Linked DNA regions of Homo sapiens: region 2 is linked to region 1. Evidence: fine-mapped expression QTL. Tissue or cell type: whole blood. Region 1 holds a variant in brackets; the other region holds the start of a gene. All regions are shown on one strand. Distances are between the middles of the regions.

The links. PIP is the estimated chance that this variant, and not a neighbour inherited with it, causes the effect.
Region 2: it holds the start of NCOA3, and the variant in region 1 is fine-mapped to the expression of NCOA3 in whole blood (TOPMed, PIP above 0.99).

What each region holds. Positions count from the first base shown.
Region 1 is chr20:47,438,589-47,446,691 of GRCh38, reverse strand. No RefSeq gene overlaps it. Among named protein-coding and RNA genes, the nearest start is that of LINC01754, 30 kb to the right of the region's middle. The variant G/A (reference allele first, on the strand shown) is at 3,203.
Region 2 is chr20:47,498,433-47,506,535 of GRCh38, reverse strand. NCOA3 (nuclear receptor coactivator 3) reads right to left here and starts at 4,649. Exons shown (of 23, transcript NM_181659.3): 1 at 4,517-4,649. RefSeq lists a silencer at 4,290-4,409 and a cis regulatory region at 5,661-5,733.

The sequences.
Region 1 (8,103 bases):
AATGGCATGATTGGAGCTCACTGCAACCTCCGCCTCCCGGGTTCAAGCGATTCTCCTGCTTCAGCCTCCCTAGTAGCTGGGATTACAGGTGCGTGCCACCACATCCAGCTAATTTTTGTATTTTTAGTAGAGACAGGGTTTTACCGTGTTGGTCTTGAACTCCTGATCTCAGGCGTTCAAGTGCTCGAATTGAACGAGCCTCCCAAAGTGCTCCCAAAGTGCTGGAATTATAGGCATGAGCCACCATGCCCGGCCTAATTTTTGTATTTTTAGTGGAGACGGGGTTTCACCATATTGGCCAAGATGTTCTCCATCTCCTGACCTTGTGATCCGCTCACCTCAGCCTCCCAAAGTGCTGGGATTACAGGTGTGAGCCACTGCACCTGGCCCATTTTATTTTTATTTTTGTAGAGAAGAGGTCTCCCTATCTTGTCCAGGCTGGTCTCAAATTCCTGGCCTTCAGTGATCCTCCTGTCTCAGCCTCCTGAAGTAGTGGGATTATAGGTGTAAGCTACAAGCCCGACCAGAAGCTCAGTTTTTAAAAGCTGAATCCCATATCCTGCAGATCTTAGACAACCCCACCTCCAGAATCTTGAGCTAAATAAACCTCTCTCCTTTATAAATTACCTAGTCTCTAGTATTCTGTTATAGTAACAGAAAACAGACTAAGGCAAGGTTTCTCCACACCTCTTTATGTTTTGGCGACTTATTTCATTTTAGCACTAAATAATATTCTTTTTTTTTTTTTTGAGACAGAGTCTTGCTCTGTCATCCAGGCTGGAGTTTAGTGGTGCAATCTTGGTTCACGGCAACCTCTGCCTCCTGGGTTCAAGCAATTCTCCCACCTCAGCCTCCTGAGTAGCTGGGATTACGGGTGTGTGCTACCATGCCCGGCTATTTTTTTTTTTTTTTTTTTCTAATAGAGATGGGTTTTCGCCATGTTGGCCAGGCTGGTCATGAACTACTGGCTTCAAGTGATCCGCCAGCCTCGGCCTCCCAAAGTGCTGGGATTATAGGCATGAGCCACTGCGCCCGGCCAGCACTGAATAATATTCTACTGTCTGGACGTACCACAGTTTATCCATTCACTTACTGAAGGACAGCTTGGTTGCTTCCAAGTTTGGCAATTACGAATACATCTGTTATAAACATTTGTGTGCGAGTGTTTGTGTGGATGTAAGTTTCCGATTCACTTGGGTTAAATGCCAAGGAGTGCAATTGCTGGATCATGTAGGAAGAGCATTTCAGTTTTAGAAGAAACTATCAGACTGTCTTCCGAGGTAGCTGTGCCATTTTGCATTTCCACAGCAATGAATGAGAGCTCCTGTTGCTCAACATCTTGACCAGCATTTGGTGTTGTCATTTTTAAAAATTTTAGTCATTAGCCATTCGGCCAGGCATGGTGGCTCACACCTGTAACCTCAGCACTTTGGGAGGCTGAGGTGGGAGGATCATGAGTTCAGGAGATCGAGACTATCCTGGCCAACATGGTGAAAACCCGTTTCTACTAAAAATACAAAAATTAGCCAGGCATGGTGGCACTTGCCTGTAATCCCAGCTACTTGGGAGGCTGAGGCAGGAGAATCGTTTGAACCCGCGAGACAGAGGTGGCAGTGAGCCGAGATATCACCATTGCACTCCAGCCTGGGCGACAGAGCGACAGAGCGAGACTCCGCCTCAAAAAAAAAAAAAAAAGAAAGAAAAGAAAAGAAAAGAAAAAATTTTAGCCATCCTAGGCCAGGCACAGTGGCTCATGCCTGTAATCTCAGCACTTTGGGAGGCTGAGGCCAGCGGATTACTTGAGCCCAGGAGTTTGAGACCAGCCTGGGCAACATAGGGAGACTCCCATCTCTACAAAAAATTTAAAAATTAGCCAGGCAGGGTGGCGTGCACCTGTAGTCCCAGCTATTCAGAAGGCTGAGGTGGGAAGATCCCTTGAACCCAGCAAGTCAAGGCTGCAGTGATCAGTGATCACGTCACTGTCCTCCAGCCCGGGTGGCAGAATGAGACCTTGTCTCAAAACAAAGAAAAAAAAATTTAGCTGTTATCTAATAGGTGAGTAGTGGTACCTCATTTTTTTAATTTGCAATTCCCTAATGACATATGACATTAAGCACTTTTTTATGTGCTTATTTGCCATCTGTATATACATATATTTTTTGAGAGAGTCTTGCTATGTGTGTGTATATATATATATATATATATATTTTTTTTTTTTTTTTTGAGACAGAGTCTTGCTCTGTCGTCCAGGCTGGAGTACAGTGGCACAATCTTGGCTCACTGCAACCTCTGCCTCCCGGGTTCAAGTGATTCTCCTCCCTCAGCCTCCCGAGTAGCTGGGATTACAGGCACCTGCCACCGCACCCAGCTAATTTTTGTAGTTTTAGTAGAGACGGGGTTTCACCATCTTGGCCAGGCTGGTCTTGAACTCCTGACCTCATGATCCACCCACCTCGGCCTCCCAAAGTGCTAGGATTACAGGCATGAGCCACCATGCCCGGCCGTGTATATCTTCTTTGGTAAGGTATCTGTTCAGAGTTTTTTGCCCATTTATTTTTTAATTTTAATTTTCTTTTTCTTTTTTTTTTTTTTTTTATTTGAGACGTAGTTTCACTCTTGTTGCCCAGGCTGGAGTACAATAGCAGGATCGCGGCTCACTGCAACCTCTGCCTCTCGGGTTCAAGCGGTTCTCCTGCCTCAGCCTCCCGAGTAGCCGGGATTACAAATGTGTGCCATCATGCCCAGCTAATTTTGTATTTTTAGTAGAGACAGCGTTTGTCCATGTTGGTCAGGCTGGTCTCGAACTCCCTACCTCAGGTGATCCACCTGCCTCGGCCTCCCAAAGTTCTGGGATTACAGGCGTGAGCCACTGTGCCAGGCCTTTAATTTTTTTTTAATTTATTTTTGAGACAGGGTCTCACTCTATCACCCAGGGTGGAGTGTAGTGTGATTTCGGTACACTACAACCTCTACCTTCCTGGCTCAAGCAATCCTCCTACCTTAGCCCCGCCAAGTAGCTGGGACTACAGGGCCGTGCCTTCACACTCAGCTAATTTTTTGTATTTTTTGTAGAAATAGGGTTTTGCCATGTTGCCTAGGCTGGTCTCGAACTCCTGGGCTCAAGCAATCCACCCATCTCAGCCTCCCAAAGTGCTGGATTTACAGGCATGAGTCACCACCTCTGGCTTTTTTTTTTTGAGGC[G/A]AGGTCTCACTCTGTTGCCCAGGCTGGAGTGCAGTGGTGTGTTCTTGGCTCACTGCAACCTCTGCTGCCCAGGTTCAAGCGATTCTCCGGCCTTAGCCTCCTGAGTAGCTGGGATTACAGGCACCTGCCACCATGCCCGCCTAATTATTGTAGTTTTAGTAGAGATGGGGCTTCACCATCTTGGCCAGGCTGGTCTTGAACTCCTGACCTCATGATCCACCTGCCTCAGCCTCCCAAAGTGCTGGGATTATAGGCATGAGCCACCACGCCTGGCCTTGCTCATTTTTTAATCAGGTCGTTCACGTTCGTGTTTTTTTAAACGAGTCAGCATCGTGCTATATTGCCCAAACTGGAGTGCAGTGGCTATTCACAGTCAGGATCATAGCACATTACAATCTTGAACTCCTGGGCTCAAGTGATTCTTTTAGCTTAGCCTCCTGAATAGACTACAGGCATATGCCACCATGCCCAGCTCTATTTTCAGATTGTTGAGTTACGTGTTTTTTTATTTTTATTTTTATTTAATTAATTAATTTTTTTTTTTTTTGAGACGGAGTCTCGCTCTGTTGCCCAGGTTGGAGTGCAATGGCGCCATCTCGGCTCACTGCAACCTCTGCCTCCTGGGTTCAAACCGTTCTCCTACCTCAGCCTCCTGAGTAGCTGGAATTATGGCATGCACCACCACGCCTGGCTAATTTTTATATTGTTGGTAGAGACTGGGTTTCGCCGTATTGGCCAGGCTGGTCTCGAACTCCTGACCTCAGGCGATCCACCTGCCTCAGCCTCCAAAGTGCTGGAATTACAGGCAAGAGCCACTGTGCCCAGCCGGATTGTTGTGTTATTTGGATAAAAGACCTTTATCAAGATATGTTTTTGCAGATGTTTCTCTCAGTCTGTGGCTTGTCCTCTCTTTCTCGTGACAATCCCTAAACTTTTGTTGCACCATCCAGGAAAGCGGCATTCTCCCTGCTGAGGGTGCTGAGAGGTGGGATGAAAGTCCAGAGCTGCTGGCAGCCATCTTGGAATCACAGGAATGGGGCTGACTGAGAATGGAGTCAAGAAAGAAATGGGGCCTGTAATCCCAGCACTTTGGGAGGCCGAGGCAGGTGGATCACAACGTCAGGAGACCAACCTGGCTAACACGGTGAAACCCCGTCTCTACTAAAAATACAAAAAATTAGCCGGGCGAGGTGGTGGGCGCCTGTAGTCCCAGCTACTTGGAAGGCTGAGGCAGGAGAATGGCGTGAACCCCAGAGGCGGAGCTTGCAGTGAGCCGAGATCGCACCACTGCACTCCAGCCTGGGCGACAGAGCAAGACTCCATCTCAAAAAAAAAAAAAAAAAAAAAAAAGAGAGAAAGAAAGAAATGGGGCCTGTAATCCCAGCACTTGGGGAGGCCATGGCTGGAGGCTTGCTTAAGCCCAGCCGTTTGAGACCAGCCTGGGCAACACGGCAAGACACCATCCCTAAAAAAGTTAGCTGGGCATGGTGGCGCACACCTATAGTCTCAGCTACTTGGGAGGCTGAAATGGGAGGATTGCTTAAGCCTAGAGAGGTGGAGGCTGCAGTGATTCATAATTGCAGCACTGCACTGCAGCCTGGGTGAAAGAGCCAGACCCTGTCTGGAAAAAAAAAAAAAAAAGGAAGAAAGAAAGGGAGAGAGAGAGACAGGGAGAGAAAAGAAAGACGAGAGGAGAGGGGAGGGGAGAGAAGAGGAGGGGAAGGGAGGGAAGATGGTTCACAGACCCAAAATCCCACAAATGGCTCAAAATCTACAAAAATAAGATCAGCTCTTATCAGAAATGAATTTACAACTATGAAGTGACACTACTTTTTCACCTGTCAGATAGGCTAAATGAAAAAATAACTGATAATACAACATGTGGCCAGGGTGTGAGGAACATGGCACTGTCAATCAGACTCAACTTTGGATATAGTAACAGAGACAGGACAGATTGGTGGCTTCAATGAGATAAAAGTTTATTTCTCTTCTCATGTAAAAGAAGTCTATAGATTAGTTCTCCAAGGCTGGCATGGTGGGTCCTCTTTCCCCAGAAACCTTGTTTCTGTCTGTCTGCTTCCATTCTTAAATCCACATGACTCAAGATAGTGGCTGGAATGCCATCCATCAAATCTGCATTCCTGGCAGCAGGAAGCGGGAAGGGAGAAAAGGGTGCACCCTTTCCTTTCTGGGAGCCTCCACTCATGTCAACTTACATCTCATTGGCCAGAACTTAGACATATGACTAAGCTATAAAGTGACACTACTTTTTCATCTATACCTAACTGCAAAGGAAACCGGGAAATTTAACCTTTATTCTAAGTTCTAGGTGGCAACGTGCTAGAATAAAAATTGGAATCTGGCCAAGCACAGTGGCTCATGCCTATCATTCCAGCCCTTTGGGAGGCTGAGACAAGAGGACCACTTGAGTCCAGGAGTTCAAGAACAGCCTGGGCAGCATAGTGAGACCGTTTCTACAAAAAAAAAAAAGAAAAGAAAAAAAATTTAGCCAGGTGTGGTGGCACGTGTCTCTGGTCCCAGCTACTTGAGAGGCTGAGGTGGGAGGATGGCTTGAGTCCAGGAGGTCGAGACTGCAGTGAACTGTGATTGTTCCACTGCACTCCAGCCTCGGTAACACACTGAGACCCTGTCCCCTCACAAAAAAAAAGAGAAAAAATTGGACTCTCTTAATGTGAAGAAGGGCAAAAAATGGATGTTGGGAAATAACTGGCCATTCCTGGATGGGTTTTTTTACATTTTTAAAAATTTTATTCATTATTTTATTTTTATTTTATTTTATTTATGTATTTATTTATTTATTTTTGAGACAGAGTCTCACTCTGTCATCCAGGCTAGAGCACAGTGGCATGATCTCGGCTCACTGCAACCTCCACTTCCCGGGTTCAAGCGATTCTCCTGCCTCAGCCTCCCGAGTAGCTGGAACTACAGGTGCCTGCCACCACACCCAGCTAATTTTGGTATTTTTGTAGCAATGGGGTTTCACCATGTTGGCCAGGCTGGTCTCAAACTCCTGACCTCCAGTGATCCCTCGCCCTTGGCCTCCCAAAGTGCTAGAATTACAGATGTGAGCCATCGCACCTGGCCAGACACTGTGTTATTCTTGCCAACAAGTGACAAAAATCACGATCAAATTGGTTATGAAAAGAGAATTCACAGGCTCACCTGATAGCAAGGGTACAGCTTGTACCAGCTTTAGGTATGGATGGACCCAGAGGCTCACACAGTGAGATCAGTACTGTTTCCCTATTTCTTGATTCATTTCCTTTGTGTTAGCTTCTTTTTTTTTTTTTTTTTTTTTGAGACAGAGTCTCGCTCTGTAGCCCAGGCTGGAGTGCAGTGATGCGATCTCAGCTCACTGCAACCTCCATCTCTCGGGTTCAAGCAATTCTTCTGCTTCAGCCTCTTTAGTAGCTGGGATTAAAGGCATGCACCACCACGCCCAGTTAATTTTGTATGGTTTCACCATGTTGGCCAGGCTGGTCTCAAACTCCTGGTCTCAATCAATCCACCCGCCTCGGCCTCCCAAAGTGCTGAGATTACAGGCGTGAGCCACTGCGTCTGGCTGTCTCTATTTCCTGATCCATTTCCTTTATTTAACTTTTTTTTTTTTTTTTTTGAGACGGATCTCACTCTGTCGCCCAGGCTGGAGGGCAGTGGCACCATCTCAGCTCACTGCAACCTCCACCTCCAGGGTTCAAGCAATTCTCCTACCTCAGCTTCCTGAGTAGCTGGGATTACAGGCACATGCCAGCACGCCTGGCTAATTTTTGTAATTTTTTTAGTAGAGACGGGGTTTCACCATGTTGGCCAGGCTGGTCTCGAACTCCTGACCTCGGGTGATGTGCCCACCTCGGCCTCCCAAAGTGCTGGGATTACAGGCATGAGCCACAGTGCCCGGCCTGTGTTAGCTTCATTTTTATTTTTATTTTCATTTTTATTTTTATTTTTTTTTTTCAGGGACTATAGGAAAGGTAAATGCTTCATTCTTGGTAATTTCCCATATGGTGGCCCAGCGAGGCTCACAGCAGTCAACCTTACATCCCACCACAAAGCAATCATGGTAGAAAAAGAACATCTCTTTTCCAGTATTTCTAGAAAACATCTCAGAACTGACTTTCACTGGACTCTCTTAGGTCACATGTCCATCTTTCAGCCAATCACCACAGCCAGAGCTGAGCTATGTTGGTGTCCGGATTGACCTGAGTCGCCTGCTTATTCCTGGAGCCCATGGGTGGCGGTCTGCCTCACCAGGACCACAGACACCAAGGGGGAGAAGGAAACCCCACCCAGGAAACCTAGAGCTGTTTCCAGAAGGAGGAGGGGTTGCTAGGTAGACTGAGCTACAAACATCTACAACAGTCACACAGGGAACTTAGGGGAAGGCCACCCCAGAAGCCCACAGTTTCCTAAGGTGCATCTCACTGTGCACGCAACTACCCCAGCTCTTTCTGTTGCCTAGGAGCTCACGTCTAAGAAATCACAAAATGTAAACACGGACTAAAGGAGAAGTCATCAGAGGAGAAGAGTATGCGAAGGGAAGAGGTTCAGAAGGGCGGGAAAACATCCAACTCTTGGACTTCGTTACCATATTCACCTTGTCGAAAAGTTTCTAAACCTGATGAATGACATTCCAGAGGACTGAAATAATTGGCACATGTGACCGAGGAAATGCAGGCAGTAATCTTCAAGAAATTGTGGAGAGTGGGAACAACTGGAAGATTGGAGTTGGGCAAATGTATGTAATTTTTAAAAGCTGAATCCCAAGCCCTGCAGACCGATTGGTTTGGGTGGTTATTCTTCCGCTTCCTCTTCCTCTTTTTTTTTTTTTTTTCTCTCTCTCTCTTTTTTTTTTGAGACGGAGTCTTGCTCTGTTGCCCAGG
Region 2 (8,103 bases), 60 kb before region 1:
TAACAAAGTTTGGTACTGGCAGTATGCAGCCTAAGAAGATTATCCAGTTTGTGGATAAATCGGCCTTCTACACACTGCAGGTCTCCCATCCTACTCCTGCTGTGTATTTTCTGGCCATTTTCCTGTTCATTTAAAAACTCTCCACCAGAAGGTAGGAAAGGGAAAGGCAATTAAATTCAATTCCATAATTTGTTAGGGGGCTGAAAATAAAGTTAGGCTCTGGATAAATTGCATCTTTAACCTAAAATAATCTTCTCCCAGAAACCCTCTCAGAAAAATGATAGACAAAATGAATTTACCTAGTAAAAACATGACCAAACTCATGGAATATGCCTCATTACCACAAAGCCCCTCCTCCACCTTAATTCTGAAGTGTTTATTTTGTAACCCCTCCCCAACCCCAAGAAGCACTCATAAAATGGGAGAAAATGGGCCGGGAGCGGTGGCTCACGCCTGTAACCCCAGCACTTTGGAAGGCCAAAGCAGGAGGATCACTTGAGGTCAGGAGTTCGAGACCAGCCTGGCCAACACGATGAAACCCCATCTCTACTAAAAATACAAAAATTAGCCGGGCATGGTGGCGAGCGCCGGTAGTCCCAGCTACTCGGGCAGGGGCTGAAGCACGAGAATCGCTTGAACCTGGGAGGCAGAGGTTGCAGTGAGCCGAGATCATGCCACTGCACTCCAGCCTGAGCAACAGAGTGAGACTCTGTCTCAAAAAAAAAAAAAAAAAAAGGAGAAAATGCCTACATTTTACTGCAGCACTCAATCTCAAAGCTATTCCTGAGAATCCAAACCAATATAGTCCCCTTGTTTTTCAATTTTTTGAAGTATGAGAAAAAAATAAGAAAAAGTTAACATACATTTCCAATACTAATTTTCTGCTCTCAGAGCTTTAACCGCTCAGTAATGCAAAAAACAAATATTTATACCAAGGATATGAACCAAACTGCTACAGGTAATCTCTTCAATCATGATCAACAAGTCTTGTTTTTTTTCTAATCCTAGATAGCTTTACAGGGTAACAACTGTATTAAATTGTGACAAATTTGCTGTTGTAGACCAAAAGTCACTGGCGGCTAATATGCATTCTAAACTTGCAACAAATTAAAAGTTTTCAAAAGTACTCTACCTCCTCTGGCCAAAGTGTGAAATTATATAGTTTTTAAAAAATGCAGGCTGGCGTGATGGCTCACACCTGTAATCCCAGCACTTTGGGAGGCCAAGGCAGGTGGATTACCTGAGGTTGGGAGTTCGAGACCAGCCTGGCCAACATGGTAAACTTTGTCTCTACTAAAAATACAAAAATAGCCGGGCGTGGTGGTGCGCACCTGTAATCCCAGCTACTTGGGAGGCTGACACAGGAGAATTGCTTGAACCCAGGAGGCAGAGGTTGCAGTGAGCCAAGATCGCGCCGCTGCACTCCAGCCTGGGCAACAGAGCAAATTTCCTTCTCAAAAAAAAAAAAAAAGAAAGAAAAGAAAAAAAAAAAACGCCCCTGCCCGCAAAAAAAAAAAAAAAAAAAAAAAAAACCAAAAACCCAAAGCCATTTATTTTAACCATCAATTTGGGATAGGACAATAGCAGAGTTTTTAAATCTTACCCTATTGTCCAAACTAAAATTTATTTTTTAATTTTCTTTTAAAGACTTTTCAATTACAGTACTCCAAGTTAAAATGAATTATTCCAGAATCATACTGCTAATGCACAAGACAGAATTTTTTTTTTTTTTGAAACAGAGTCTCATTCTGTTGCCCAGGCTGGAGTGCAGTGGTGCAATCTCGGCTCACTGCAACCTCCGCCTCCCGGGTTCAAGCCATTCTTCTGCCTCAACCTCCTGAGTAGCTGGAACTACAGGTGCTCGCCACCACGCCCGGCTAATTTTTTGTATTTTTAGTAGTGAAGGGGTTTCACCATCTTTGCCAGGCTGTTCTCAAACTCCTGACCTCGTGATCCACCAGCCTTGGCTTCCCAAAGTGCTGGGATTACAGGCCTGAGCCACTGCAGCCCGGCAGAAAGAACTGAATTCGTTAAAAAAAAAAAAAAAAAAAAAAAAAGACACACTTAGCTTTTATCTTTAATGTAATGTCCCTGCAAGAAAGCTTATTTCAAAAGACCAGTCAAGAAGACATTAGTAAGCAACCATTTTTAAACTACTTTTTATTTGCATATCGCCTAGAAAAAGGGTCTCACGTACAACAGTACTTCACTCCTTACTGAATTCTATTTTATTTGCTCGGGAGGTGCGTGGCACTTTTTAGAAATAATTTTTATACAGAGAAGGAAATGCACAGCATAATCATTTTCAAAATACAGTTAAATTATTTAATATAATCTTTAATAACCTAGCTCTAATATCACTGAATTTCCTTAGCAAATTGTTAGTGTTGGCAAGCTGTTAAAACAACCATTCTAAAATATAAAAATATAAATCTCGCTATTGATGCTTAAGTTGTACATTTTCAAAGCCTTTGTAATTAAATATCTTATGGCAGAAATATTTCCTATAACTGCTCTAGAAATATTACAGCCTCCCGCTTAGTCCACAATCCCCATCTTCTATATGCCAAAAGCTGGTATATGCCTCTTATTTCAAATGCTGATTGGACAATTAAGTCATTTCCATCTATACATAAAATGCCCCTATAATTTAGGATCACAGGCAATTTAGATTTCTGCTCATTGAAATGCAGAACCTGAAGCAACCTCTAGTGACAGGAGCTATAGTGTTCAATATCATTTTACATGTTACAAGCAGAGGATTCATTGTACATACAAACAATGAACCCTGGCAGAGTTCTTTATCCTAAAGCCCCACAGATTGTTATTTAACGGTATTAATAGATAAGGTGACATAAGCAGTAAGTTCTGAAGAGCTTTTTCCAATAGCTATCAACATTTTTTTTAAGAGAGCAAAAACAGTATTCCCACATTTTCTGTTTCTTCTGTTCATTTTATTTCCCTGCTTTTGGTATCCAACAGAAGTGGTTTCAAATGAAAATCTTAAAATAATTATTCCAAAGACCAAGGATATTCTAAAAACCAGTAACAGTCTTTGCCTCTGAGAAGGGGAAACTGTAGGGTTTGGCGTGAAAGAGAGATTCACTTTTCAATGTGTTTGTACCTTTCCAATTGGATATCATTCGGTAGAACCATATTCTAAATGAGCATACATTTAAAATATTTTCAAGAACAAACAATTCACAAACTTACAGGTTTCCATTAACATTTTCGTTTGTGCAGCATTCGCTGAAGACCTAAGATTTTTATTCCTCCAATCACCTTCTCAACAACCTGCTGCAACAAATACTGAAGCTTTTTTGCAGCCAGGGATCAGTTAGGTGGATCCGAGGCCAGGCATTTAAATCAAAGAGATGCAGCAATCTTACTCAATACTACTACCACTCTCACGCATCTCATTCAACTCCATTTAAAACCACTGCAGCAAGACAGCTGGTACTCTCCTTCCTGTTTCTTTACCGTACAGGCTTAATAACAAAAACAGGTTGGTTTTGAAGCCCTGCTCAAATATTGCAAAAAGGAAGTCTTCGCATTCGGGAGGGGGAAAAAAGTTTCGACTTCGAGAGAATCTCATAGCTTCCGTGTCATTCCATTTGGGAATCCCAGATCCTGCCAGTGAGGTAGATGCTCGCTCTCTCGGTTAACTTTTCCACCCTAGATGCCCTCAAACTGCCTAGGAAGCAACTAAGTCTCCCAACGACCCATGGCTAGTTTTGTTAAGGCAGGTACAAGACAAGCAGTTTATTTAAACCATGACGAACTGGGTCGATGTTCATAAAATGAGAGATGGGGAGAGCAAAAAAAAAAAAAAAGTAGTAATAAAGACAGCCAAACTCCTAATTTTATCAACCAACTTCCCACTTGCCATTTCCCAGCCTTCACACCAGAGGTAGTAAAACGCCTTTTTACCGAGAAAACTAAGAAGCTACCCGAGCCCAACATGAAAATTCCGCGGACAATTCGTGTTAAAATATTTTTTAAATGCCCAAGTGAGGAGGAAACACAGCAACCAAATCTCACCCGGCTGGGAGGCTGGGGTGGGGGGGGTCCCCGCGGCTTTTCCCTCCCGTGCGTCCCAGAAGCTGCTAAGGAGCCGGGGCAGCAGGAGGACGACGCGGGGAGCTTTCAAAAGGGCTGGGGGAGGCAAGAGGAAGAAAAAACTTTAGGGACAGAAGGGGAAAGTGGGCCCCTGCAGTCCCCCCGCAAACTCCTCGGGTGACCCCTCCGCGCGGGGACCCCCTCGGATCCCCAAGCGGACTGCCACCCAGCTTCGTCTCAGCTCCTACCGCCGCGGGCCGCCCCCCGGGCTGAGGGGAAGCGGCGCGGCCCCGACACCCCGAAACTACCTCAGCGCGTCCCCCGGCCGGCGCGCCCCTCAGTGCCTTGGCAGATCTGAAGCCGCTGGCTCTCGCAGCCTGGGGAACTCGCCCCTCTTCCCTCCGCCTCGCACTCCACCCCCTCGCCCGCCACCGCCTCCTCCTTTATCTCCACTCACCTCCCGCCGCCATTTTCCTCGCAGCTCAGCTTTAAATCGGAAACTCGCCGCTCAGCCCGCAGCCGCCGCCGGCCGCCACCGACTAAGCCGCAGCCGCTGCCGTCGCTGTGGAGCGGCTGAGACAGCAGCAGCTAAAGTCGCCGCACGGGGGCCACTGGGATATGTAGTCCCGAGGCCACGCCCAGCACTACCGGTCCCAGGGGGCCTTGCGCGGCCGGCCTAGGGTTCCAGCGACCCCCACCCTGGCTTCCGCGGCGGAGGGCGTGGCGACGTGGGCTCGTGCGGCCGCTTTCGCCCAGCATCGACTGGGAGCTCCCTCGGGATCCGGAGAACCGGAATGCAGTCCTAGCCCTGCCCTTAATTTTTTTCATATTTGCCTTCGTCCAGTAATACCTAACATTTGTGGAGCGTTTCTGGTATGCCAAGCACGGATCCTCAAAACAAGCATCCGGTAGGGACCATGATCATCCTCATTTTTCAGATGAGCGAACTGAGGCACAAGGTCGGAAGCCACGAGGCTGTTCCTTAGCTGCTAAAGTCACTGGGTGAAATGTTGTTGGGCAGCAGTATATTCAGGGTATATTTAGTCCCGAAGTATCATCCCACAGCGTATTTATGACTTACAATAAAGAACAGCTTGCTTTACAATGGAAAGATCTGGCAGGCACCCCCTTACCAAGTGATCGAACTTAGCACCACCAATAATGGGTCAGGACTGTTGTTATGTGTCTCCTAATATGATGCAGTGGGGAAAGCATATTGCTACCTCTGTCGTATTCTTGCCACATACACACAAAAAGCTTACTTGAAAAAATAAACGAATTCAGAATGTGGGACATTCTACACAACATCTAGCCTGGAGTCTTTTAAAATATGACAGCATGAAAGAGGTGAAAACCAAAAGCAATAGGTGAGACTTGATTGGATTCAGGATGATTTTTTTATGTAAAAAGAATTTGGGGGGCAATTTCAATGTGGACTGTATGTTAGATAATATTGAGTCAGTATTAGATGTGTTGAGTGTAAATAAAATAGAATAATCTGACCACTTACCACCTCCACGGTCAGCACCATCATTTCCCACCTGGACCACTGCAACAGCCTCCTCAGTGTTCTGCCTGCTTCCACTCTTTCCTCTTAGAGTCTATACTCAACACAGCAGCCAGAGGAATCCTGGTAAGAACCAAGTCAGTCTCTGTCCCTCCTGCAAAATTCTTGCAGTAACCTGCAAAGCCCCATACAGCCCGTCTCTTGCCCTGCCCTTCCCTCTCTAAACTCATCACCTTCTTCTCTTCCACTCACTTCTGTAACTCAGCTACAATGGACTCGGCCTCTCCAACGTGCTTAGCACACTCTGGCCTTAAAGATCGTGCACTTGCTATTTCCTCTGCCTAGAACAGTATTTTCCCAGAAAATTCAAATAACCCATTCCCTAATCTCCCCATGGTCATTGTCCAAATGTCACTTATTCAGTGAGGCTTTCCCTAACTGCTCTATTTTAACTTCCTGCCCACTCTGATCCCAGCTTTCCCTACTCCTATTCCTTTCTTCATTTATTTTCAGAGCATGAATTATCATTAAAATCATGATATATTTCTGTTTACTTATGTTATTTAAAATATCTCATTTTGGCTGGGCGCGGTGACTCACGAATGTAATCCCAGCACTTTGGGAGGCCAAGGCAGGCAGATCACCTGAGGTCGGGAGTTCAAGACCAGCCTGACCAATATGGAGAAACCCCGTCACTACTAAAAATACATAATTAGCTGGGCATGGTAGCACATGCCTGTAATCCGAGCTACTCAGGAGGCTGAGGCAGGAGAATCACTTGAACCTGGGGGCAGAGGTTGCGGTGAGCCGAGATGGCACCATTGCACTCCAACCTGGGCAACAAGAGTGAAACTCCGTCTCAAAAAAAAAAAAAGTAAAAATTAAAAAATTAAATATCTCATTTCTGGGCCGGGCACGGTGGCTCACACCTGTAATCCCAACACTTTGGGAGGCCAAGGTGGGCAGATCACCTGAGGTCAGAAGTTCCAGACCAGCCTGCCCAACATGGCGAAACCCCGTCTCTACTAAAAATACAAAAGATTAGCTGGGCATGGTGGCAGGCGCCTATAATCCTGGCTACTCGGGAGGCTGAGGCAGGAGAATCACTTGAACCCGGGAGGCAGAGGTTGCAGTGAGCCGAGATCGCGCCACTGCACTCCAGCCTGGGCCACAAGAGCGAAACTCTGTCTCAAAAAAATATATATATATATATTTCCACCAGGGCACAGTGGCTCAGGCCTGTAATCCCAACACTTTGGAAGGCCGAGAGATTGCTTGAGCCCAGGAGTTCAAGACCAGCCTTGGCAACAAAGCAGATACCCAGTCTCTACAAAAAATTTTAAAATTAGCTTGGTGTGGTGGCGCCTGCTTGTATTCCCAAGTACTCAGGAGGCTGAGGTGGGAGGATTGCCTGAGTAGGGGAGGTCAAGGCTGCAGTGAGCCATGCTTGCACCACTGCACTCCAGCCTGGGCGACAGAGTGAGACTCCATTTCAAATATATATATATATAAAATAAAAATAATAAAATAAAATACTGCGTTAGATGCTGAGAACCCAGAGATGAAATGCTCACACGTGTATGGCCTTTCACCTCAGCAACTGCACCTGTCTCCTAGCTACTCTCCTTGCTTCTCTCCCTTTCATCCTCTACAGGGCACTCCCAATACAGTAGCCAGAGGGATCCTTGAAAAATCATGTATTAAATCATGTTACTTCCAACCTAGGCCGGGTACGGTGGCTCACGCCTGTAATTCCAGCACTTTGGGAGGGCAAAGCAGGCAGATCACTTGAGGTCAGGGTTTTGAGGCCAGCCTGACCAATATAGTGAAACCCTGTCTCTACTAAAAATACAAAATTAGCTGGGCATGGTGGCACACACCTGTAGTCCTAGCAACTTGGGAGGCTGAAGCAGGAGAATCTCTTGAACCCAGGAGGCAGAGGTTGCAGTAAGCCAAGATCATGCCACTGCACTCCAGCCAGGGCAACAAGAGCGTAACTCCATCTCAAAAACAAAACAAAACAAAACAAAACAAAAAACTTCCAACCTAAACAGCTTCGAATGGCATCCCATTGCATTTGGGATAAAACTCAGACCCTAGTTGGGTGTGGTGGCCCACGCTTCTAGTCCTAGCTACTCAGAAAGCTGAGGTGAGAGGATTGCTTGAGCCCGGAAGTTCGAGGCTGCAGTGAGCCGTAATTGTGCCAGTGCACTCCAACCTGGGTGACAGAGGGAGACCCTGACTCCATTTAAGAAAACAAACTACTCTGACCCTAATTGATTTGGTCTCTGCTCCCCTCCCTGATCTCAGGTGATATATCTCTCCCTATATCTCACCCCATGTCACACTAACATTCCTGAACACACCAAGCATATTCCTGCCTCAGGACCTGTGCACCTGTTGTTCCTTTTGCCTAGAATTTTCTTTCCTCCTGGCTTGCTCTCTATTGCCATTCAAGTCTCTGCTGCAATGTCTCCTTCTCGGATAGAACTTCTAAAGCACTAAACACACACACAGGCACAAACACAGTCATATCA